Homo sapiens: one gene and its partners. The protein of the gene in region 3 purifies or fractionates together with the protein of the main gene of each other region. This does not show direct contact. Each region holds a gene or a part of one and is shown on either strand. Other genes may lie near its edges.

Region 1 (2,834 bases), on a different chromosome or scaffold from region 3:
GACATGAGTACATGAAGTTCTTTGTGAAAAATAGGGCCGATTGTATTTAACTTAATAACTTGAATTATATTCTTTGTGTATAACTTTTCAGAGAAGGCAGTTTTGCTTTGGGGACTGAAAAGCCCGAGTTGTAGTTTCAATGTCAATTTATTTCATCAACACTAGAAACTAATATATTAACTAAAATAAAGATGCCAAAAAATGTATTTCACGTTACAATGTATCTTTAGCACTTTCTTAGGAATGAGTAGATTCATGACACAAGATTATCTGATCTAGTAATATATTCTATTCCTATATTTAATGTGTTTTAGAGGCAACTACCATTTAAGGATAATAAAGTTGTTTCTTTTGGCTCCTTAAATAGCTTATGGCTTTTATTTTGGAAGAACATAATTACACTCATGTGTATCAGCCAGTGAATGTGTAAAAATAATTTTATACACTTTGGAAGAAGACAGTCGTCTGTATCTGTTTCTTTTAAATTATACAGCATCAGAATTTCTCTTGGTACAAAAAAGAAATTAACCACCAAGGAGTGCCTTAATGTCCACAGTGAGCCCTTGGTAATGAGTTAGGGTTTTTGTTGATATGTCCAAAATACTTTTTAAGTATGTTTCATTGTAAATTAATCAGAATAAAATTTTTCTTGCTATTCACCTGCCAGTATATATTTCTGTGATCACTGCCACTGCATATACAGTATCTGGTTAGTTTGATCTTTCAACGTCTCTTTTACTTTTCTTTCTGTCCTGACATCCTTTTTAATTTTTTTCTCCATGATTTTTCATGCTGTACAGAATGCACTCATGAATTGCATTTCAGGAATATTTAATACCATAATAGCAAGTTTTGTTGACAAACATTCAAATTGGTTTCAGCTCTAGAAATTCAATACTTAAATTAGAAGGAGACACATGTTCCTCAGAACATAATAGCTATATTCCTTTTATAGCTCTCCGTTTCATTAGGCAGCATGAGCATCTGAGAACCTCAGTATTAAAGCAGTAGGACCTGTATAAATTATATGTAAATATGATAATTAAGCATTTCTTTCCGATGGTATAGATCCGTTGAAGAATGTTTTTTTTCTTAGAAACAATCTATGTGTTTTAGGATTCACATGATCTTGAATTTTTTAAAAATCACCTGGCCAGCTAGCAATTAAATATCGTTTACAAATTTACTTTCACATTAATCAGTAAGCAGATATTCCTTCTCATTTCTAGCAAAATAAAATTACATGTCAAGTTTCATCTGAAACTATGTAATACCTTATTTGCTAGCCTCTAAAAATTGTTTTCATTCCACATAAGAATTTGCTAAGACTGTTGCTTGACCTTGGTGGCTTTATTTTGTTCAACAGGTCATGTACGTAGAAGGGACTGCAGTTGTGATGGGTTTTGAAGATCCCATGCTACAGACAGATGACACTCCTATTAAACGCTGTCTGCAAACCAAATGGCCATACATTGAGTTACTCTGGACCACAGATCGCTCTCCTTCACTAAATTAATTTGTCTAAGTATTTATAAGGAAGATCTTAATAACAGATGTTGAAAGAAGGAGTCAAGACTGGCAATTGGCTGGATTAAGCTAAACACTGGTATCACTGATTAACTGTAAATAACAATTAAAAACACATTTTCAGTGTTTATGATATGTTTAAATTATTTGTCCTAAAGCTTTATGTTAAAGATTATCCTATTTTACCCCTTCGTGTGAAATTTACTAGCAAAATTAAGCTTTCATCAAAGTTCATCACTTTTGCATTCAGATACTTGGTCATTTACTTACCAAATTACAAACGCAATACTACAGCATTTGTATATTAAGTATCACAGTTACTATTGATAAACTACTTTTGGGTTTTATTTCATTGAGGCACTTTTTTTATTGTTTGAATGATTCCGGCTTGTAATATATCAGCCTCTACAATGAAATGCAGAAGAGTTCATTTTTCTAAGATCTGTTTTTCATTAGAAATATTGACAAATAACACATTGTCAACCTGGATCCTTTGACAATTTACTTAACTCTGGCATGTTCACAAAAAGTAGAAACTCTAAGAGACCATTACCATTTATTCACAGATGTATAGGGGATGTATTCTAAAAACTGACAGAAAAGAGAATCTGATAGTCAACACTGTTAACTTTTACTGTGTAATTGCCAAATACACTTTTCCAAATTTGTCCCAACAGCCCTGTAAGCCAGCTTTCTTCTATATTTATAAACACGATAAATGCATGAGAAGATCTGTTATTACATTAGTATATTACGTTATTTATTATGATCCTAGTTGATGGCCTAAATAAACACCTTTTTCTTTAACTGTACCCTTGCATTTTTTACATTGGTGGCTCAAAATAAACAAATACGTACTTCTAAATGTTTCTACCCAATAACCCTGAGAGCACAGAGTACTACAAATGGCTAAGTCATACAGGACCTCGAATAAGAGACCAGGCCTTATGCTAACCTAAGAGCTCTGCTAACTCAGCCAGCCAGAAGCATGAGAACCCACATGGCAGCTTTCTAGACCAGTGAGCAAAGATGCAGAAGCCCGTTTACTTGAGAGAGAGATCTGCTGTATTCTGATAGGTTTGTGGCCCAGCAATTTAAAATCACATAGCCATTAATACTTTTTTTCCTCCACGTGTAAAGCCACGTGTAAAGCAGATAATTATGTAGTATCCTCTTACACATTTCAGAACTGAACATTACCTTCAATAGTATAGTTCCTGTGTGAATTTCTGTTTGGGTTTTGTTTTCTTTCGTACACACACACAATTACAATATAATTAAGCATAGGGAAAGGCATGAGATTTTGT
Region 2 (4,157 bases), on a different chromosome or scaffold from region 3:
GGAGCGTCTCCAGGCTCTGGTGTGCTTGGGGAGCTGGCCAGCTCTCGGCCTAGCTGGCGTCTCCAGAGCTGCGGTCCTGGGTGAGGGTTGCTGGTGGAGTTCTGGCCACCTAAGGCACCCGAGGGAGCCAAAGGAGCAGAGGTGTGGGGTGGGGGACGCCGTGGGGTACCTCCACATCCAAGGAGGTCTGCTGTTTGTCCTCACCCCCGTCCTGCGGGGGCCCCGGCAGGCAGCCCCAGGAACTGCGTAGGGATGGGACAGGGCCCAGATGTGAGGGCCGTGGTGGGGACGGTGTGTGGCCCTGGATGACCTCGTGTTGCAGTGTGACGTGATGGTCACTGCCACCATGCTGAGGGCCCCAGCCACCAGTCACCCACCATGGGGGGTGCCTCTGTGTGAGGCACGGGAGGGCCATGGCGTGAGGGGCTGTGGAAGTGGCCGGTCTTCTCCGCTCAGCCCCACACAGGATGGGCAGGGCAGGGTCATGCTGGCCGAGGGTAGTCTTGGGAGAAGGACAGGGTAACTCTCTGTAGCTGAGCCCCTGCTGCCCCTGCACCTGTTCTGGGCCTGGCTAGCGGCCCATGTACATCCCCAGCAGGACTCCACGTAGCTAGTCTGGCACCCACCACTACGGCCCCCTCACCCACTCCCTGAACTGGACGCTGGGGAAAGGTGACTTCTTCCATCCTCTGGGTGCTCCCCAGGGAGGAGGCCCCAGCTCCCAGCAGAGGCCTCTGGTCCCCCCTTGTCCCTGCAGGGCTGTGTGGGCACACTGGGTGCCAGTCGGAAGGGCAGGTGGCGATTCCCAGCTCTTGGGAGCTACCCGGCCACATCCCGGCCCTGCCCAGACGCTCCAGGGGCACCCCACACTCCTGCCCGCTGCGAGGCCCCGCCCCGCCAAGCCCAGCCCGTTATCGCTTGGACAAACCCTGGGTTGCTTTCTTCGGGGGGCCAGCACTCTGTTTGGGACCCTCTCCCTCCCGCCCTTAGGGCAGCAGAACGGCCCCCACTCTCCCGGCCCTGCCTTGGAGTGGGGCACCTGCCAGGAGCAAGTGCTGGGGAGGCTTGGCGGGCGCAGCAGGGACTCGCCCTAGCGCAGCTCCGGATGGGGCCGCGGTAGGAGGACGAGCCAGTGGGGCGGGAGGCCGCGGAGATGGCCCGGGGGCCCTCTGCTTCCCCGCGCCGTGCCCGGGAAGGACCCCTGGGCAGCGGCCGCGGGGCGCGGGGTGTTGGGGGGCACAGCCCCGGCGCGGCGCTGAAGCAGCGACGGTCTCCGTGGGGACCGCGGGCGCCCGAAACACGTGGGGCCTGGAGGGAGGAGCGCGCCCTGGCGGCCCCGTGACCCCGCCCACGTGACGGGCGCCCGCGGAAGGCGACATGGGCTCCGCTCCCTGGGCCCCGGTCCTGCTGCTGGCGCTCGGGCTGCGCGGCCTCCAGGCGGGGGGTGAGTGGCGGCGCCCCCCGGCCCATTCCCCGGTCCCGGCCCCGCCTCTGAGGTTCGCGTCCCCCCACAGCCCGCAGGGCCCCGGACCCCGGCTTCCAGGAGCGCTTCTTCCAGCAGCGTCTGGACCACTTCAACTTCGAGCGCTTCGGCAACAAGACCTTCCCTCAGCGCTTCCTGGTGTCGGGTGAGACCCCGGCCCCGGCCCGGCCGCCCCCGCCGTCCCGCCGCCCCCCGGCACCCTCGCCTCATCCGCCCTCCCCACAGACAGGTTCTGGGTCCGGGGCGAGGGGCCCATCTTCTTCTACACTGGGAACGAGGGCGACGTGTGGGCCTTCGCCAACAACTCGGCCTTCGTCGCGGAGCTGGCGGCCGAGCGGGGGGCTCTACTGGTCTTCGCGGAGCACGTGGGTGCCGGGCGGGGTCGCGGGCGGGGTCGCGGGGCACGTGGGTGCCGGGCGGGGTCGCGGGCGGGGGTCGCGGGGCACGCGGGTGCCGGGCGGGGTCGCGGGCGGGGGTCGCGGGGCACGCGGGTGCCGGGCGGGGTCGCGGGCGGGGGTCGCGGGGCACGCGGGTGCCGGGCGGGGTCGCGGGGCCGGGCTCAATGGCACGTTCCCCCAGCGCTACTACGGGAAGTCGCTGCCGTTCGGTGCGCAGTCCACGCAGCGCGGGCACACGGAGCTGCTGACGGTGGAGCAGGCCCTGGCCGACTTCGCAGAGCTGCTCCGCGCGCTACGACGCGACCTCGGGGCCCAGGATGCCCCCGCCATCGCCTTCGGTGGAAGGTGGGCGCCTCCCCCGGCCTCCGCACCCCCTCCCTCCCCTGCCCCGACCCAGCGCCCCCAGCCCTTCTCCCCACTCCCCTCTGACTCCCACCGCTGCCTTTTCGTAAGGCCTCAGGCAGTGGTTCCAGGCTTAGTGTTGCCTCCCCCAGGAAGCCCTCCCACCTGTCCTCCCAGCCACCTGCTCAGCTTGGATGTGCGGCCACACTAGCGGCCTTTCCCAGTGAGAGCTGCACCCGCACCTGGCCCAGGGTTGGAATTTGTGGGTCTCAGAAGTGTCGTCCTCCTTGTGGCACCTGTGGGCCCCTGAGGAGGAAAAGAGGAAATGGGGTGTTGGGGGCAGCAGCCCTAACCCTGTGTCCCTCACCCAGTTATGGGGGGATGCTCAGTGCCTACCTGAGGATGAAGTATCCCCACCTGGTGGCGGGGGCGCTGGCGGCCAGCGCGCCCGTTCTAGCTGTGGCAGGCCTCGGCGACTCCAACCAGTTCTTCCGGGACGTCACGGCGGTGAGTGAGGCTTGGGGTCCTCCAGGCCCCCTAAGGGACAGCAGCTGCAGTCAGCACGGTCTCTTTCCCCCAGGACTTTGAGGGCCAGAGTCCCAAATGCACCCAGGGTGTGCGGGAAGCGTTCCGACAGATCAAGGACTTGTTCCTACAGGGAGGTGAGGTCCTCCCACCGCCTCCCACTGCCTGACCCGCCCCAGCGCCAGCTATGCCCAAACTTCAAGTCTCTGCCCCTTCCACGCAGCCTACGACACGGTCCGCTGGGAGTTCGGCACCTGCCAGCCGCTGTCAGACGAGAAGGACCTGACCCAGCTCTTCATGTTCGCCCGGAATGCCTTCACCGTGCTGGCCATGATGGACTACCCCTACCCCACTGACTTCCTGGGTCCCCTCCCTGCCAACCCCGTCAAGGTGAGGCGCCGCCTCCCAGGGCGCAGGGAGAGGCCGGCTGGAGTGTCCCGAGGCTGGTGGTCAGCGGCCTGACCCTCATCCTGGGAGCCAGGGAGGCGGAGCTGGTGGAGGGGACCCCGCTGAGTCGCCGCTGCCCCTGCACTCCAGGTGGGCTGTGATCGGCTGCTGAGTGAGGCCCAGAGGATCACGGGGCTGCGAGCACTGGCAGGTGCCCTTCCCCCGGCCCCAGATGGGCAAGTGTGGAGACCCCAGGCTTGGCTTGGGTCCTGGGGCCGGGTGGGGCGAGGATCCGCAGCCCGGCCAGGGGCTTTGCCTCCTGCCCCAGGGCTGTGGTGGGGTGGACAGCACGACCTTCCCAGAAACCCTGGGGGAGGCAGGGGCCGTCCCTGGGGACCCTCTCAGCACTGGCTGTAGCCAGGCCCAGCTTGGTGGGTGCTGCCCAAGGGGCCCCTGGGGTCCCCAGCATGGAGGGCAACAGAGGGCAGCAGGCCCCACCCTGCCCCGTGGAGAGCGGGGGGGCCCTCAACAGTCAGGCCCGGGGCTGGCAGCACAGACACCGCCGACCTCCAAGCAGGTAGCCTGGAGGGCCTTCCTCACTGGGACCTACAGATCCCAGAGCCCCAGATCCCCTGCAGGACCATTCCGAGGGGGGACAGGTTGGTGGCCGGAGCCCGCGGTGTGTCTGTGTGTGGCCGCTGGGCCCCAGCGCCTCTCCTCCCCAGGGCTGGTCTACAACGCCTCGGGCTCCGAGCACTGCTACGACATCTACCGGCTCTACCACAGCTGTGCTGACCCCACTGGCTGCGGCACCGGCCCCGACGCCAGGGCCTGGGACTACCAGGTGTGGGGGTGTGGGTGGCCTGGAACCACTCGGGGGCAAGGGTGGGCGTGGGCTGGCCTGACTCAGGCTGGGGCACCTGCAGGCCTGCACCGAGATCAACCTGACCTTCGCCAGCAACAATGTGACCGATATGTTCCCGGACCTGCCCTTCACTGACGAGCTCCGCCAGCGGTACTGC
Region 3 (3,977 bases):
TAACCCCAAGAGTGTTGGTCTGAGTCTCAGTTTTTTCCAACCCTTCTGCACTGTGCCTCCATACAGATTGCTTCTCTAAACCATCTGGCTTTAAGTTAAACTTCTCTGAGCAGCTTGGATTTCCCCACAGCAATGGATCTTTTTGCATGGATCTGGATTCCATTTAGGGGCCCTGCAAAATGTTGAATTAAAGATCAGGAGCCCTGGTCTCTACTTCTTCCTCTGCCCCCAACTACCTCTGTGACCTCAGGCAAGTTGCAAATAAGTGTGTTCATACCTGCCCTGCCTTTGTCAAAGGATGGCGTGGCTGATGAAAAGTGTGTGCCTAGAAGCTTTGCGAGCTACGAAGCACTTTCGGTAACTCTGAACCATTTTCAAAATGTATATGAAAGTGATTGCTATTGAAACTTAAGATAATTTGCAGATGAAACCTAAGCATCTTTCTAATGCTCAGGAATGCTTGCAAGAAGGCAAAAATCCAACAGTTGAGATGTACTTGGGGAGTCAGTCCCTTCTCCAGAGGGGATGATCATCTTTCTAGAATCTTTACAGGGTTGGTGTGAGTGTGTGTTGTTGGCAGACAGGGAGTGCTCGCATGTAGTTAAACGGTTGCCTCTCTCTCTCTCTCTCTCTCTGTGTGTGTGTGTTTGTGAAACTGGTATCTGGTTAGGCCCACATGAGCTGTCTTATGTGTCTCTCTGTGCAGTGCCGTGTGTGTCATTCAGCTGTTAAGCGTTGAGAGACCTGGGTTCTGGTTTGGTGACCTTGAATAAATCCCTCAGACTTTCCAAGCCTGTTTCCTTATTTGTAACTTAGTGGTTTGTCCCTTCCAACTTGCGTACAGCTTGGAGGGGGGGGCCTTCACTACTGATTTCACTGTCTAGTTTGGTTTCTGGGTCTCTGTTCCAGTGGGCCAGCCACTCTTTGCTGGCGCCTCCCTGTGCCAACTTCTGTACCTGAATTGTTGCTCACTGAAGAGCTGGCATTTAGCTTTTTGGAAATTGTCTCTAACTCACTGGAAATGCAGGAAGCTTGAGTATAAAACTCACTCAGAAAAAAAAAAAAAAAAGAAAAAAAAGAACACACACTCAGAAGAAACCGCAGGGCCTATCAGCCTGTCGTCATCGAGCAGACTAGAATAGTATAGAAAACCCTAGGCAGAGAGGAAATGAACTTCAGAGAAGGGAAACACACGGCTAAGAAGAGAGAGGCAAGGGCAGGAGTGAAGGAGAGAGCTGAAGCCTGGGGCTCCGAGATGGTCAGAGGATGGGAGACGGGGCAGTGAAACAAGGCTTCTTGTATCTTCAGCAGCAGCAGACGTTTGGAAAGGTAGGAGTGAGGCTGGGCTGGGGTTGGGCAGGGGGCCTGGGAGGCTGCTAGAATTCCTGGGTTGGAGAGGGAGTTTCATATTCAAAACCCTTATAGGTCTGACTGTGCACCCACCAAGTTAGACCCAGAGCTCAACTTTGGGAGGGCTCTTTTCCTACCCGACGCTGTCTCCTGAACCAGGCCCCAACCAGGTCCCAAACTGTGCTCCTTACTGAGGGCTGTTTGCCCTGGGTGGGGGTGGGGGATGTGCTGCTTTCATCTCTTGCCTCTTTTGCTCTCTTGCTCTATGTTGACTTCTTTTCACCGGACACCTTGGAAGGGAATGGAAGGGGCAGCTGGAGGGACAGTTTAGGATGACAATAGAGGTTCCTTCCCAACCCCAGTGGGGTGCATGTGGCTGGTGTTCAGCTTGGGCTGGGGCCTCTGGGGGCCTGGACCCCAGCCGGCTGTCCATCCTCTTTCCCCTTCCCTGGCCTCCTTGAACCAGGAAGTCCTCGTCCCCTAACCAACACTGGGGGGCACACCTGTCTCTCTCTCATGGCCCAACCTATCAAGGAATGAGGCAGCAAGGTTCAGGAGGGTGGAGAGAAGTTCTCCTTCAGGATTTCGCACAGAAGGAGAATGAGGTCTCCAGCCCGGGTCACACGCCGCCCTCCTCACTCCCTCCTCTGGGCCTCGGCCACTGCCCCGCTTTCCTCCCCAGACTGGAGTCCACTGCGGTGGGCCTGTTTGGCCTTCTTGCAGCCTGCTTTGGGCTCATCCCGGCGTTGCTTTCTGCCTGGGCAGTCTCTGCTCTTGCTCGTGGGCCTCCTTCTCGGGGCTGGCGGCTGATCTCCGATTTTCTAATTCCTGCAGTCACTGTCCTCTTCTCTGCCTCCCTGGGTCTCATGTGATCTTCACCTCTCTCTCCCCATCTCCAAGTGGCTGCCCCAGTCCCCCTCCCACGGTTCCTCTTCTCCCCTTGGCTCACGATCTCCCCGTCTCTGGGTGGCTCCCTCCCGCCCCCGCCTCCCACGCCTCTGGCACAGAAATGGCGCCGCTTCGGCGCCTCACTGTATGGAGGGTCGGACTGCGCCTTGGCCCGGCTGGAGCTGCAGGAGGGCCCGGAGAAGCCTCGTCGGTGTGAGGCTGCCCGGAAGGTCATCCGCCTCAGTGACTGCCTGCGGGTGGCCGAGGCCGGCGGAGAGGCCAGCAGCCCCCGGGACACCAGTGCCTTCTTCCTGGAGACCAAGGAGCGCCTGTACCTCCTGGCGGCCCCTGCAGCGGAGCGCGGCGACTGGGTGCAGGCCATCTGCCTCCTGGCCTTCCCCGTGAGTCGCGCGGGGTGCGGAAAGGGCAAGGGGGCGTGCAGGCCGAGGGTGTTAGATACTTCCTGTGGGCAAGTGTTACAGGTGTCAAGGTCAGGGTGATGGGGTGCTTCCTCCATGTGGGGGGACCCGAACCCAGTGTGCAGACAGAGCCAGCAGGTTGAGGTGGCCTGAAAGAAGGCCTGGGCCAGAGGGGGGCCTGGGGATCGGGGAAGGTGATGAGACGGGGCGCCTCCTCCCTAGGGGCAGAGGAAGGAGCTCTCGGGGCCAGAGGGAAAGCAGAGCCGGCCCTGCATGGAGGAAAATGAATTGTACAGCAGCGCAGTCACAGGTGAGGGGGCGGGGGCTGCCCTGCTCTCCCCTGGGGGCTCTCCCCAGGGTGAGGTGGAGAGGAGGTGTGGGCTGGCTAGCTGCTGGCCCCGAGTCTTCCTGCCTTGTGGTTATCCCCAGCCTGGGCCAGCCCCGTTATCAGCCTCTCCTTCTCGCTTCCGGGTGCAGCCCAACGTAGGGAGCCTACCCTGCCTTGAGTCTCTCCCTTGGTTCACCTCATCTTACCTAGGGCCTGCTGGTGGGAGAGGGGAAGGCTGGGGGCCCAGGTGAGGGTGCTGCTTTTTTCTATTTTTGAGACGGAGTTTTGCTCTTGTCGCTCAGGCTGGAGTGCAATGGCACAATCTCGGCTCACTGCAACCGCCGCTTCCCGGGTTCAAGCGATTCTCCTGCCTCAGCCTCCTGAGCAGCTGGGATTACAGGCGTCGGCCACCACGCCTGGCTAATTTTTTGTATTTTTAGTAGAGTCGGGGTTTCACCATGTTGGCCAGGCTGGTCTCAAACTCCTGACATCAGGTGATCCACCTGCCTCAGCCTCCCAAAGTGTTGGGATTACAGGCATGAGCCACTGCGCCTGGCCCCAGGTGTTGCTTTTGAGGAGCTGGTGGAGGGAGGAGAAACTTTCATCTGCCTTCCATCTAAGCTTCACCCCCAGGGCCCCGGCAGTGGGAGGGCAGGGCCAAGGCTTCACCTGCAGCTGTGACCGTAGGGACTAGGGTGGTGGCTGGTTTGGGGTGAGAGATGGGGTGGGGAAGACAAGACTGTGGCTCTGGCGACAGGGGCAGGAAGGATGTGGGCACGAGGTTGGGGTGGATGTGGGTAGGGGCGTGATGCCTACTAGGGTAGGGGGTGGAGGTACCTGGCCTTTTGGGGAGTATGACCTGGCACAGAGCAGCTCAGCCTCCAAGACCCAGGCAGGGGGCCATAAGTGTGTGGATAATACTTTCTAGAAAAGTTCTGGTACGCTCATTTAGAACTGGGCAGTGGTGAGGCAGGCCAGCTGTTTCCCATTAA
Region 4 (3,500 bases), on a different chromosome or scaffold from region 3:
CACACATTAAAATATGAAGGTTAAGTTAAAAATCTGCTTTTTGTCATATTATGTTCCTAGAAACCTTGTGAAATTAATGAACGGCAAAAATAGATCATTTCCATTTTCTCTCTTAGCCACTAGATGGAGCTAAGCATAGATTTATGTTCAGGATTAGGCTGCCTCCAACTCTGAATTTGGAAATGTGGGGAAATGTAAATTTAGAAATGTGGGGGAAAATAATAAGAGTATTGAGGAGAATGAGATTATAGGTGATTTTTAATCATTTTGTTTTCTGTGTGGGTGTGTGATCTGTAATTTATAGGAAAAGGTCCAGAGGATATTAAAATTATTGATAGAAATTTTTAGTTGTAAAACTCTTCATGTTTAAAACAATAAAAACTTTCTTTTTCTGTATTTATAGCAATTCTTGGGATGCACAATTTGATAACGAATACAAAGTTCTGTAATATAATGGGAAGTAGTAATGGTGTTGACCAAGAACATTTTTCAAGTGAGTACTTAAAATGCTTTGTGAATTCTAATCCTTTATTAAATATATTTTGTTTTCGCCTTGTGTCAGCTTAAGTGTTCACATACTAGATGTTATATATATGTACTTGAAACCTGACATTTCAGTTTGGTGGTATTAACCAAGAAAGCCATTGAAAATAGAGTATTAAATATTTTGTGTTTAATGGGTCAGCAAATGTAATAAGAACCACTCTACCTCACTAAATAATGCTAAACAGTATAAAAGCTAGTCCAACTTGGTTTTGTTGACATTTTATTATCACTACTACTAATTTTCAAGAAATACATAACAGTACTTACAAAGAAATTACATTATAAAATCAGATTCAGGAGATACCACAAAACTATTCAGCCCCTAAACCTTTCAGTCTGATGTGAAGTATTATATAGCCTAAAGCAAAGCTTTTCAGAAACTCATTTATAGGGGCCAGGTGTGGTGGATCATGACTGTAATTTCATTTTCTGAGGCTGAGGCAGGAGGATTGCTTGAGTCCAGGAGTTCAGGACCAGCATTGGAAACGTAGACCCCCATCTCTAAAAAATTTTAAAAATTAGCTGGGCATGGTGGCACATGTCTCTAGTCTCAGCTACTTGGGAGGCTGAGGGGAGGATGGCTTGAGCCCAGGAGCTTGAGGCTGCAGTGAGCTGTGATCACACTACTGCACTCGAGCCTGGGCAACAGTGCAAGACCCTATCTCAAAAAATAAATTCATGTATAGGGTGTTCTTAAATTAGCAAGGTGATACATGCCTTTGTAGCACATTTAAACAGTACATAAGTATTTATGGGAAGAGGTAAAAGTGTCTCTGTCTCCAGCCATCATGCCCTCTACTTCCCCAAACACCACCTACCCTGTTAACAATTTTGTATATACCCTTCCAGGCTTTGCACTGTTTATACTAATGTATACATATTATACATAGTCTCTTATTTTTTACAAAAAATCGATTATACTGTAAATATTTATTGCAACTTAATTTTTCAATAATAATTCTATTAGCTAATTTTTTTTTTTTTTTTGGAAACGGAGTCTTGCTCTGTCACCCAGGCTGGAGTGCAGTGGTACCATCTTGGCTTACTGCAACCTCCGCCTCTCAGGTTCAAGCGCTTCTCTTGCCTTAGCCACCTGAGTATCTAGGATTTGACAGGTGCACGCCACCTTGTCCAGCTAATTTTTTTTTTTTTTTTTTTAGTAGAGATGGGGTTTTGCGATGTTGGCCAGGCTGGTCTCGAACTCCTGACCTCAGGTGATCTGCCCACCTCAGCCTCCCAAAGTGCTGGGATTACAGGCATGAGCCACTGTGCCTGGCCAACTGTTTTTGAATGCTTACTGTGGGCCATGTTGTGTGCACAGCTCTTGGACGTGAAGTACTCTTATTAGCCCTGACAACAGTTCTATGAAATAGATATTATTATTTTTAATTTGCATGTGAGAAAGCTGACATTTTAAAATAATTGGGTAACCTCAATATTTTACACAAAGTCAGTGGTAAGGATTTTAACCCGTGTTATATAGTGTATCACTTAGCAGTCGACCGTGTTTTCTAGTTAATATGTATACATCTACATCATTCAGACATGTGTATAACATTCCTTTCTACGATGTTTTGTAATTTGACCATCCCCCTTCTCATTTTTAAGTTTTTATTGTAGAAATGTTCAAACACACATAGAAGAAGAGAGAATAATATATTCATTACCCAGTTTCCGCTGTTTTTAACATTTGCCAGCCTTGTTTTATTCATCTTCTGTCTCCCTTCCTAACCCTTCTACTTTTTTTTCTTGACGTATTTTAAAGCAAACCCTGTTCATTTGTATTACATACCTATAAATATTTCCATATGTGTGTCTCACAAATAAAGGCTTTTCTTTTAATGTAATCATGATGCCATCATCAAACTTAAAAATTAACGGTATTTTCTTCATATCATGTAATACCCAGTCTGTGTCCAGATTTCCTCTGTTCTCTCCAAAATGTCGTTTCATGATTGGCTCAAAAAAGGTTACACACTGCATTTGGTTGTTTGTCTTTTTAGTCTCCCTTAATTTCTTAACAGTTCTCCTCCCCAACCTCTTTCCTTTTTTTTTTTTTTTTCTGTGCCATTTATTTTTTAAGAAACTGGGTTTATTTTTCGTAGAATTTTCCACATTCTGGATTTGGCTGATTTCAACCTTATGGTATCATTTTATGTTTTTCTATCACCTATGTTTCTGTAAACTGTTAGTTCTAGTGGCTTGATGAGATGCAGGTGCAGGTCCCTTTTGGCAAGAATGCTTCATGGGTGGTGACTGAATCATATTAAGAAGCTTATGAAGTCTAATCCTTCCTCTTTGGGGGAATGAGATTGATCACAGGGTTCAAATGTAGGCAGCCTGACCCATCCTTTTTAAGTTTCCCATGAACCTTTTGCTTAATAATTCCTGCATCCCATTGACTGGATTCATTATTTCATTAAGGGGCAAGGCTCTTAAGATTTCTCTCCCCATTCCATCTTTCCCCACTCCACAGGATGTGTGGAATGGGGAAAGAAATCTTTTGGTTTTATAAAATTAGAACTATTCAATTTTCCATTCAATGAGGAAGTTCTTCCCTAGCTATCTTGAAGACTACCTTGCTGAACTTAAGTGAGAGGGATCCCACTCTCTGTTGTTTAGCAGAGCTCCATTAGGAAGCTTTTCCTTGTCTTGAACCAAGTTCTGCTTCTTGGCAATCTATACTTGTTCTAACGCAGCCTCTCAGAACAGCACTAAATTTGTCTCTTCTCAACTTCTACAGGATAAATCTGAAAACAGCTAGGATAACTTCTTTTAATAGGTACTTCTCCAGACTAAATATATTCAGATTTTTCACCTGACCTCGGGAAAGTAATTTTCAAACCTTCATCTAAGTTGATCTTCTCAAGATGCTGTGTGTGTGTGATATTTGAAAGTAACAAGATACTCTTAGATGGAATTTATTGGATAATCAGTGCACCCTGTCTCAAGAT
Region 5 (3,500 bases), on a different chromosome or scaffold from region 3:
TTGAAGTCTCTTTATTGGGCTTTCATACTTATCCTAGTTATCTATTTTTCCACTGAATGGCTATATCATAATTTATTAAAGCAGTTTCCTATTTTGAGTGTTTAGGTTTCTTCCAATTGTTTGCTGTTATAAATAATGTAATGAATCATTTTGGTAGGGAAAAAAGTATCATATGGGCCACTTGCTTGTGTTTCTTTGATAGCTTATGAGGTGGTATCTTATTCTAGAAGCCAAGGTTACTCTTAAAAGGTGCCCTTTAGCGCTGTCATTGACTCCACCCTTGTATTAGTCTGTACTTGCATTGCTATAAAGAAATACCTGACACTGGGTAATTTGGAAGAAAAGAGGTTTGGCTTTTTACCAAGCCAAACAGTAAAAACAGTAACCATTGGCTCATGGTTCTGCATGCCGTATAGGAAGCATCTGCTTTTGGGGAGGCCTGAGGGAGCTTTTACTCATGGCAGAAGGCAAAGTGGGAGCAGGCACTTTGCATGGTGAAAGCAGGAGCAGAAGAGTGAGGGGGGGCGGTGCTATACACTTTTTTTTTTTTTTTTTTTTTTTACTGTTTCATAATTTATTTATTTTTCCATGGAAATTATTTAACATTTTATTTTCTGACAAAGCTCCTGTTTATTTTATTTTTTATTTTTTATTATACTTTAAGTTTTAGGGTACATGTGCACAACGTGCAGGTTAGTTACATATGTATACACGTGCCATGTTGGTGTGCTGCACCCATTAACTCGTCATTTAACTTTAGGTATATCTCCTAATGCTATCCCTCCCCCCTCCCCCGGCAATTGAACAATGAGAACATATGGAAACAGGAAGGGGAACATCACACACTGGGGCCTGTTATATACTTTCAAATGACCAGATTTCATCAGAACTCACTCGGTATCAGGAGGACAGCACCAAGGGGGATGGTACTAAACCATTCATGGGAAGTCACACTCATCAACCAATCACCTCCCACCAGGCCCCACCTCCAACACTGGGGATTACATTTCAGTATGAGATTTGGGTGGGGACACTAATCCAAACTATATCAGCCATATATAAAAATAATGATTTTTCTGGATTCTCCTAGGACTCCCTCCTCCAAGAGGTCTAAATCTCCTGCCTAAAAGTCAGACCACTCTAAATTTGACCTGGCAACCAATATTTCCAAGCTCGGAAGATGACTTTTATGTTGAAGTGGAGAGAAGGTCTGTGCAAAAAAGTGATCAGCAGAATATTAAAGTTCCAGGCAACTTGACTTCGGTGCTACTTAACAACTTACATCCCAGGGAGCAGTACGTGGTCCGAGCTAGAGTCAACACCAAGGCCCAGGGGGAATGGAGTGAAGATCTCACTGCTTGGACCCTTAGTGACAGTAAGTAATTCATGCTGCTCCAGCCTCATCTGAGCAATAAGGGGCTACCGCCATGCAGACTTAGCTAACATCACTGCAGGACTATTGGAAATTATGAAAGAAAGTTAGTTGTGAGAGAAGGCTAATTAGTGCCCCCCACCTAATCATTTTAATAACTTGCAATATATAACATATATTTGGATTTGCAATAATTCAGGCAGGTCTGTGCTAAAATTTACCTTCCCTTGGTGTGCAGTTGTTTATTTAGTAAATTAGTAACAAGAAGTTTTTCTAGGGCTTGTTGAACCATTTATGGGGTAGTTTTGAAGAATTATCATATATCTACATGTACACAGATGTCAGTTAATTCCAGATGGGTCTTACCTAACCATAAAAACCAAATAACTTTGCTTGAAACCCCTTGAAAACAGGTAATTTTAAAAGTTAAAAGATTTATCTAGGAGTAATAAAATCACTTTTTTTTTCCAAAGTATTTTGCATTTCAGGCTTCTCAATTTCAGATTGGTCATTTAAAATTAATGGGAATTTCTTGGGTTTCTTTGTAGTATTGAAAGTCTATTCATTACTAAACTAAGCAGAGAGTTTTATTTTGATTCACTGAAATTAGAACTGTGTGCATTTGGAACCCTTGGAAAGGTAAACTATTTCTTGGCCACACACAACTACCACTGAAGTCAGGATCATGTGGTCTATGGCCTTACCACCCTGAACACACTGGATCTCATTGATCCTGGAAGCTAAGCAGGGTCAGGCCTGGATGGGAGATTATGTGGTCCCTTGCCACCTCCCAGAGTCTGAGGCTGTCTTTGCAGCTGGTTCTCCACTTCCTCAGGAACAGGTGTGGAAGCTGGCTCAGTGTTTCTTTGGCCACTCTTTTATTGCATCAGTGACTTATGAAAGTCTGAATTGTTTTGTCAGTGTTTAGGAATTCTTCATATATAATGTTTAATTCTGTGAAATTTCCAAGGTGCAGAATCATGCTAACAGTAACACAACGAACAATCACATTCCTCCCATCCAGAATTAACAACTGTTAACATTTTGTCATATTTGCTTTCAGCATTTGTTGTTGACTTATGTAATAACCCACTACAGGTGTATCAGTATCTCCTGCAACTGTTATCCCTATCTATTTCTATTCCCCTCTCCCAAGAGACAACCAAAATTATGAGTTTGTTAAGTATATTTTAATTTAATGTTGTATGTATATATTTTTTGAGACAAGGTCTTGCTCTGTTGCCCAGGCTGGTGAGCAGTGGTGCCATTATGGCTTCTGCAGCCTTGGCTTCCTGGGCCCAAGCAATCCTCCCACCTCAGCCTCCTGAGTAGCTGGGACCACAGGCACACGCCACCACACCTGACTTTTTTTAAAAATTTTTTTGTAGAGATGGGATCTCCCTATGTTGCCCAGGCTGGTCTGGAACTCCTGGGCTCAAGCAATCCTCCCGCCTTCGCCTCCCAAAGTGCTGGAATTACAGGCATGAGCCACTGTGCCAAGCCCAATGTTCTATAATTTTAATATCTCTGAAAGTATACACATGCATACATATCATTCTTCATTTTTTGAATGGACATTATGAATTTTATCGATCCATGTTTATTTAGCTTTGATGCATGTAATTTTAACTTCTGTATAATATTCTATCTTATGAATGTATCTTGTCATTCATCCTCTCCCTTTTAGAGGGAGATGTAGGTTTTTTCATTTTTTACTATCATGAACAAAATGCAATGCCCATTCTTATGCATGTCTCCATGTGCATAGACAGGTGTGAGAGTTTTTCTAGGAACAAGTCCGGTGGTGGAACTCATGGGCTATTTCCCTCTAAAGTGGTTAGTCAGTGTGTACTATGTTCAGGAGTGTATGACAGTGCCATTTTCCTTATACCCATCTCTATGTCTATATCCTTTCCCTATATCACTCGATAGTGTCACACCTTTTTACTTTGCGTATCTCAAAAGCAAAATATGGTGCCTCATTGTTAATTTCAATTTTGATTTCCTTGATAGCTAGCAAAGGTGAGCATCTTTTTATGTTAATTGTCCTCTTTTTTGATATACTTATTGATATACTGGATGTCCTCTTTTTTGATATACTTATTGATATCCTTTGCTCATTTGGAAT
Region 6 (3,500 bases), on a different chromosome or scaffold from region 3:
CAGGCTGGAGTGCAATGGGATCTCAGCTCACTGCAACCTCTGCCTCCCGGGTTCAAGTGATTCTCCTGCCTCAGCCTCCTGAGTACAGGTGCATGCCACCACGCCCGGCTAATTTTTGTATTTTTAGTAGAGACGGGGTTTTACCATGTTGGCCAGGATGGTCTCGATCTCCTGACTTCATGATCCATCCACCTCGGCCTCCCAAAGTGCTGGGATTATAGGCGTGAGCCACCACACCCGGCTTATCGCCTCACTTCTTACTGAAAAAAATAATCTTTCATTGTTGTTTGCTTACTTTTTCCATAGTACCATTGTATTTTATAATCAATATCAGATGTGGAAAAAGACATTTAAAAAAAGACATTAAAGACATTAAAAAAAGACATTAGGCAAAGCCTGTTAATTTGTGTACTTGATTTTTATCTTCATTACTGTCATAATTTACACCATTGGTGTGCCTTAGTGTATAACTTCATTTAGCTGTTTGAAGACATTTCTTGATTTCATCTTCTTAGATTAACTTTGTTAGAAGTATCAGAATTCCATTGCATTGATAATACATGTTTACATACATATTTCTAATTAATAGTTCACCTAACCCTTTTAAAAACAGATATATACAGGAGTAGGGAGAGGCTATACCATGAGCTGCATTTAGAAGCAATGTTTCTAAGCTGTTACTTTCATTTTGATTTGTCTGTCCCTCCAAACTGAACCACTAAAAGCTTGGCAGGATTCAGTTGAAGATGAACAGGAGTTAAATTTTTTCACTGATATTGTTTCTTTTCCACTTAGTGTTTCCTCTACTAGGAGCTAACTATGTCCAAAAACAGAATTTTGATTGGTGAGGGTGAAAAATGAAGTTTAGAACAATAAAATAAATACCTGTTCCAAATGTAACCTGCAGGTATTTCACAGTATTGCTTATTAATGGAAGTTATTTTTTGTGGTCTTTGTAGAATCAGTTATGAAATTACCAACTTGGATATTTTAATGACTTCTTCTTGTAATTGTTTTTGCAATTTTATATTTTCAGGAAGTTCTATGCCAGGTCTCAAGCAGTTTATTAAAATTTGCCCAAGAGTAAATTCTACCACAAGTAAATCTCTTTGGAAACACTACCATTATGTTGTTATTTTATTGTCACAAGTCTCAGTAGTTGTGAAAGAGCAACCTTGGAAATTAAGGAATTGAAGCAAAGCAGATTTCCTGACAGAATAAAAATCAGTATCAGAATACCATTAACATTTACTAACATTTAATTTTTATTTATGGAATTGTTACCATATAGATGAAAGAATAAGTTATACATATATATATATATAGACAAATATGATGGACTGAATTACATATTTAATGGAGTCCACCTCAAAAGTAAAGATTTATCAGTTGTTAAAAATTTTAGAAAGTTTTCTTTAAATTGTTTTAGCCTAATAGTATATTACATATTAGTGCTATCATTTATTTTTACGTGTATCATCTTTTAATACTAGAAGCTCCATCAAAACAACCTAATTATAAAATCATCCGTTTAAATTGTTTTTTTTTAATAGAAAAAGTTACGTCGATCACAACACGCTCGCAAAGAAACAGAGTTCTTACGGCTCAAAAGGACCAGACTTGGCTTGGATGACTTTGAGTCTCTGAAAGTTATAGGAAGAGGAGCTTTTGGAGAGGTGTGCTTCTTTTTAAAAGTCACTACTGCTGCAAATATATATCTTAAGATAATTTAAAATATGTGTTAAAATATAATTCCTGGCTGGGTGCGGTGGCTCACGCCTGTAATCCCAATACTTTGGGAGGCCGAGGCGGGTGGATCGCCTGAGGTCAGGAGTTCGAGACCAGCCTGGCCAGTGAAACCCCGTCTCTATAAAAATACAAAAATTAGCTGGGCGTGGTGGTGGGCACCTGTAATCCCAGCTACTTGGGAGGCTGAGGCAGGAGAATCGCTTGAGCCCAGGAGGCAGAAGTTGCAGTGAGCTGAGATCCCACCATTGCACTCCAGCCTGGGCAACATGAGTGAAACGCTCTCTCAAAAAAATATATATATGTGTTTGTATGTATATATAAAAAAATATATATAAATATAAATATATATAAATGTAAATATATAAATATATATAAATATATATTAATATATATAAAATATATATAAATATATATATAACATATATAAAAATATATAGATATAAAAATATATAGATATATATATATAAAATTCCTGAAATACCAACACTGGCAAATTCCTGCTTTCTTTAAGGGAAGTTACTTTTCTTTCCTGAACAAATAGTAGTGACTGTTTTATAATATATGTTTTTTATCTTTTAGGTGCGGTTGGTCCAGAAGAAAGATACAGGCCATATCTATGCAATGAAGATATTGAGAAAGTCTGATATGCTTGAAAAAGAGCAGGTATGAGTTCTTTAACACATGTAATATAAAGGAGCATCCACTGACGCAGTGTTAAGAGTGTTTATATTAGAATTTTTAAGAAGCAGTTTACACATCTTACTACATAAGCTATTAATTTTTTGGTAGCCTGTTTTAGTGTTTCTCAGTTCTTTTAAGGTTTCTTCTAAATTTATAATCTATGTATGTCTGCTTAGACTTCCATAACAGAACACAACAGGCTGGTTAGCTTAAACAACAGAAACTTATTTTCTCATAGTTCTGGAGGCTACAAGTCAAAAATGAAAGTTTGGGCAGGTTTTGGTTTCTGGTGAGGCCTCTCTTCCTGGCTTGCAGATGGCCACCTTCTCACTAAGTTTTCACATGGCCTTTCCTTGGTGTGTGCGGGGACACACACTCCTGTGAGAACTCTCTGGTGTCTCTTCTTATAAGGACATTAATTCCACCCTTATGACCTCATTAATTAACCTTAATTAATTCCCTAAGGGTCCATCTCCAAATACAGCCTCATTGGAGATTAAAGCTTTACTCTATGAATTTTGTAGATGCATGAACATTCAGTACATACCTTCTGAAATACCTCCTTTTCTGACTACAATGAAAATAAAGGACAGTTCTCAGCTCCCAGAATCCCTGTCACATATCAGATAATCAAAACTAGTCTCCTGGAAATTTGCTGATTTTACATATTTCTAAAATCTGTAACCTTGTAAATATTCTGGGCTCTCTGCATGTTTCCTGTGCCTTAATGCAGTTACAAGGGGTGGCTTCGAGTAAAGGAGGGATGGCTTTTTGAATATTTAAGGAGAGAAATTGTGAAATGGTCATTTTCAGGTGCGGGAAAGCAGACCTGCTAAGGAAATGCAGTTGAAGGCTCATTGAGATTTGCAGTCATGAATTTAAAGTGAAACCCATTGGCATAGCTGGGTGATTTTTCACCCTAGTTTCAGTTAGGTTAAGAAGGTAATAGGAACCATCAGGAGACAGGGTTATAGGGGATTTTGTTGATGACAGGCTATGATTCCCCAGAGGGAAGAGGTGTGGAAGGCAAGGAAGGTTGAGATACTGAGTTGGATTAGAGAACTATAGAT
Region 7 (3,500 bases), on a different chromosome or scaffold from region 3:
GGAGCTCAGAGGAGAGCACAGGGAGGGCTGAGGGCCGGGGGCTGGGAAGGTGGAGAGGCTGCCAAGCAGCAGCAGCAGCTGTGGAGGGGCTGCAGTGAGAGGCGGCGCCCCAGGCAGGGCTGAAGCTGTTTCCCAGCTGGGGCCAGGGGAGCCAGCAGCTGCTGCTGAGAGCCATTTTAGAGCCAGGGTTTTTTGTTCAGGATAGAGCAGGCGTTTCGAGTTGCTTCTGGAATCATCAGCTGAAGCGGCAGGAGGAAGGTGCCAGGGAGAACAGAGTGTCGTTGAGCCGTTCGGTTTTCACCTCGGACTTCCCAGCAGCTGTAAGGCAGACCCCACTCTACAGCTGAGGCAGCCGCAAGCAGAGCCTTGCTGGGCCTCACCCCTGGAAGAGGGGGTGCAGTAGCCCATGGAGCCCACGCTGAATGCCCTACAGCTGGGGGTCCACTTCCCTGATGCCTGTGAAGACATTGCATTCTCATTTATTGCCTTTTCACCAGGTAGAAACTCCAGTCTTAAAAAGAAATCCCTTTCTTTTCAGTTTGCAGAGTGGTGTCTAGATTACGGAGCACACGGGTGCCGCATTCCTGACAGACCCTATTCGCTCTTTGAAGGTAAGAGTGAGAAAAATGCTATAGATTAAATGTTTGGGTGAAATTGGTTCTCCTGCCCTTGTGGACTGGCACTGTTCATATTTGACCTGGCTCAAGTAATACTTCCAAACTGTAAAATAATCAGCAGAGTAGCTTATTGCTGAAAATTATGTTGAATCTCTTCACCTTACCTATTGTTTTGTGCTCCTGTGAATGTCTTCCAAGTGTTCTTAGGTTTTTTGTGAGGTGTCTATGCAGACAGAACGTAGAAGGCTTGCTGTTAGCAATGGAAGAAATAGTTTACTCCTCTGCATTTCATCTGTAATGTTGCATATTTAATATTGGTGTATTCATGGGAAGCTTGAATAATTACTTAAATATATTTAATATCATATAAAGAAGTATGAATAATTAATATTAGCAATTAGAAATATTAGTAAGTAGAAAAAATAGCAAGAGTGAATATTGAAGAAAGTTCTGAAAAGAGGAGCACTGATAGGCAGGCAGTGAAAGCAACAAGGATTCCAGAGTCCACCACGGGCGCAGGGAAGGGAAGACAGGAGCACAAACAGAAGCCCCACAAACAGGCCCGGATATTCGTTAGATTTGTATGTGGGTATGGGCGTGCTTTCTGTTTGCTAACATTTTGGTAAAGGTTTTTGCATCTCTATTCATGAAGGATATTGGCCTACAGTTTTCCTGTCTTGTGCTGTCTTTCTCTGGTTTTGGTATCAGGGTCATACTGACCTAATAAACCATGTTGAGAAGTATCTTCTTCTCTTCTGTTTTCTGGGACAGACTGTGTTAATTGGTGGAAGAATTGGTATTAGTGTAACTTAAATGTTTGGTAGAATTCTCCAGTACAAACTTCTAGGTCTGGAGATTTATTTTTCTAGACTTTTAAAATAAATTCCGTTTTTAAAATAGTTATAGGGCTGTTCAAGTTATCTATTTCATATTGGGTGAGCTGTCATAGTTTGTAATTTTTGGGAAATTGGTTAATTACGTACATGTGGTGAAATGCAAATATGTAAGCTATTGGTATTCCTTATCATCCTCTGTCTGCATCGTCTGTAGTGGTATGTCCTGTTTTAGTTTTCATACTGGTAATATTTTTAAATCATATTTTAGAAATACGAGCAGAAAACAGAGCATGTGTCACATGTTTTGCAGAAGATGATCTTTTTTAATATTCAGAGAACTCATAAGGAAAAAGTACTTACTAGAATAAAAGTTGTAGTCCTCTATGTCATAAAAATGCAATGCATTTGCATCAGATATAACAGAGTTAATGCCTGAACTCTAAATGGAGTTTATCAACTTGATAATAGCACCTTCAGAGCCCCAGTGGGTCAAAAGCTTTGGATGTACAGCTCCCTAAAGGCGGGAAGTTAATAGGTCACCTCCTTCCCCTGTGCCTCGCCAGTGCCTGGCAGACAGAACTGTGGGGGACTCTCACCAAATTCCCGTCAGGGGACGGAGGGATTATTAAGCCGTGTGCCTAGCAATGCAGGCCATTGTGGCAAACTGGCCGGCTGGAGGAGCCACTGGGAGGGCTCACTGGCACCTGGCACCCCTTCTGGAGGAGCTCACTCCTGCTGGAGTGCACCGCCCAGTGGATCCGCTGCCCACACACCTGAGCAGGAAAGCCAGGCTCATCCCCGCAGGGCCTGCTGTAGGGCCTCCTAGGCTTGTTATGGGTCCCTGTTTACTTCTCATGGGCACTCCTAGGTCAGTGGTTTTCTAATTTTTTAAACAAGTTTCTGGAACCTTTCTTTAAACAAAAACTTACAGAGAAGGCTGGGAACACCCCAGATGACCGTCAGTAGGAAAAATGGGTAAACAATCTGCAGTGTACTGTTCAGCAGTAAGAAGGGGCCAACTATGAACAGGCACAGAACGTGAATGAATTGCAGGAACCCTGACGAAGGAGCCAGATACAAGGGCTGTACACTGTGGCCATGCTCATAAGAGTGCCAGAGCAGGCAGAACTAATCCATGGTGGACCAAGACCAGGCTGCTGGTTACCTCTGGGGGGACCACAGGGATGGGAGGGACTGGAGAGGGGCACTTGGAACTTCCTGGGGTGATGGAAATATTCCAGGTCTTAATCGGGTTTTGTTTGCACATGTATATGCATTTTACAAACCTCAGAGAAGTACATTTTGGATTTATGTGTTTTATTGTACGTGAATTTTACATCAAAAGAAAAACTGTAAACAAAAACCCTGTAAGGGAGGATTGTTCTGATTTGAGTGGGGACAGGAGACCTGGAGGCCTTGGTGGGCTACTAGCACCTTCTCCACCCCACACCCTTCCTAAGCTGCTGTGAGTCTAGTTGAAAACCCACTGCTCAATTACTGCAATGATTTGGGGTGGGGATTTTGACCAAATTGAGGTTTGTTAAAAATAACATTCTTCAAATATCAAGAAGATATAAAATGCAACTTTGAGCATATACAGGCTCTGAGGGGAAGCTCCGTGTATAGGAATATCGTAATTAGCAGCATCCATAACTTCCATAGCGATTCTGTGATGCCACCTTAAAGTTTCAAGATATAAGATTAAAGCCCAGTAACCAGTTTTTTAAATATAAGATAGTGAGGAAAACTGGTGTTATTATATTACCTGCCAGGTGCTAAATATAAGGATATCTTTGGTTTTTAATGAAGTCATCTTTAGAGTCCTCAGCACCTTTCCCACATGCTTGCAGCCCCTGGTAAGGGAAATGATTAAAAGTCACTGTTATAGACACTACCCTTATGCCATTCCTAAGAGGCTCCTCATTTTACATTGCAGGCATGGCTGGCGCTATTCACTTTCTCTCTGATGTCCTGGGACCAGAGACATCACGGTTTCCAGCATTTGAACTTGACTCTTCGAAGAGGGATTAAAAGGTGCAAAAAGACA

The links.
Region 1: the proteins of DOK2 (region 3) and MINDY3 purify together in Homo sapiens (affinity purification with mass spectrometry; 2 studies listed by BioGRID and IntAct, with this or other methods). This does not show direct contact.
Region 2: the proteins of DOK2 (region 3) and DPP7 purify together in Homo sapiens (affinity purification with mass spectrometry; one large-scale study listed by BioGRID and IntAct). This does not show direct contact.
Region 4: the proteins of DOK2 (region 3) and TMOD3 purify together in Homo sapiens (affinity purification with mass spectrometry; one large-scale study listed by BioGRID and IntAct). This does not show direct contact.
Region 5: the proteins of DOK2 (region 3) and TEK purify together in Homo sapiens (affinity purification with western blotting, with the first as the bait; 2 studies listed by BioGRID). This does not show direct contact.
Region 6: the proteins of DOK2 (region 3) and STK38L purify together in Homo sapiens (affinity purification with mass spectrometry; one large-scale study listed by BioGRID and IntAct). This does not show direct contact.
Region 7: the proteins of DOK2 (region 3) and LANCL2 purify together in Homo sapiens (affinity purification with mass spectrometry; 2 studies listed by BioGRID and IntAct, with this or other methods). This does not show direct contact.

Annotation. Positions count from the first base shown.
Region 1 is NC_000010.11:15,777,674-15,780,507, reverse strand, and holds the end of MINDY3 (ubiquitin carboxyl-terminal hydrolase MINDY-3), read left to right. Parts: exon of another isoform or gene 1-659; intron 660-1,366; coding exon 1,367-1,516; 3' UTR 1,517-2,334; downstream 2,335-2,834. UniProt on the Homo sapiens protein: Hydrolase that can remove 'Lys-48'-linked conjugated ubiquitin from proteins.
Region 2 is NC_000009.12:137,111,934-137,116,090, reverse strand, and holds the start of DPP7 (dipeptidyl peptidase 2 isoform 2 preproprotein), read left to right. Parts: upstream 1-1,357; 5' UTR 1,358-1,377; coding exon 1,378-1,444; coding exon of another isoform or gene 1,445-1,514; coding exon 1,515-1,628; intron 1,629-1,708; coding exon 1,709-1,848; intron 1,849-2,062; coding exon 2,063-2,226; intron 2,227-2,594; coding exon 2,595-2,730; intron 2,731-2,803; coding exon 2,804-2,885; intron 2,886-2,971; coding exon 2,972-3,138; intron 3,139-3,285; coding exon 3,286-3,346; intron 3,347-3,860; coding exon 3,861-3,979; intron 3,980-4,061; coding exon 4,062-4,157.
Region 3 is NC_000008.11:21,910,891-21,914,867, reverse strand, and holds the start of DOK2 (docking protein 2), read left to right. Parts: upstream 1-1,177; 5' UTR 1,178-1,266; coding exon 1,267-1,329; intron 1,330-2,357; coding exon 2,358-2,639; intron 2,640-2,879; coding exon 2,880-2,967; intron 2,968-3,977. UniProt on the Homo sapiens protein: DOK proteins are enzymatically inert adaptor or scaffolding proteins. They provide a docking platform for the assembly of multimolecular signaling complexes. DOK2 may modulate the cellular proliferation induced by IL-4, as well as IL-2 and IL-3.
Region 4 is NC_000015.10:51,888,653-51,892,152, forward strand, and holds part of TMOD3 (tropomodulin-3), read left to right. Parts: intron 1-403; coding exon 404-493; intron 494-3,500. UniProt on the Homo sapiens protein: Blocks the elongation and depolymerization of the actin filaments at the pointed end. The Tmod/TM complex contributes to the formation of the short actin protofilament, which in turn defines the geometry of the membrane skeleton.
Region 5 is NC_000009.12:27,196,225-27,199,724, forward strand, and holds part of TEK (angiopoietin-1 receptor isoform 1 precursor), read left to right. Parts: intron 1-1,090; coding exon 1,091-1,375; intron 1,376-3,500. UniProt on the Homo sapiens protein: Tyrosine-protein kinase that acts as a cell-surface receptor for ANGPT1, ANGPT2 and ANGPT4 and regulates angiogenesis, endothelial cell survival, proliferation, migration, adhesion and cell spreading, reorganization of the actin cytoskeleton, but also maintenance of vascular quiescence.
Region 6 is NC_000012.12:27,306,786-27,310,285, forward strand, and holds part of STK38L (serine/threonine-protein kinase 38-like), read left to right. Parts: intron 1-1,553; coding exon 1,554-1,676; intron 1,677-2,328; coding exon 2,329-2,412; intron 2,413-3,500. UniProt on the Homo sapiens protein: Involved in the regulation of structural processes in differentiating and mature neuronal cells.
Region 7 is NC_000007.14:55,427,837-55,431,336, forward strand, and holds part of LANCL2 (lanC-like protein 2), read left to right. Parts: intron 1-538; coding exon 539-611; intron 612-3,389; coding exon 3,390-3,484; 3' UTR 3,485-3,500. UniProt on the Homo sapiens protein: Necessary for abscisic acid (ABA) binding on the cell membrane and activation of the ABA signaling pathway in granulocytes.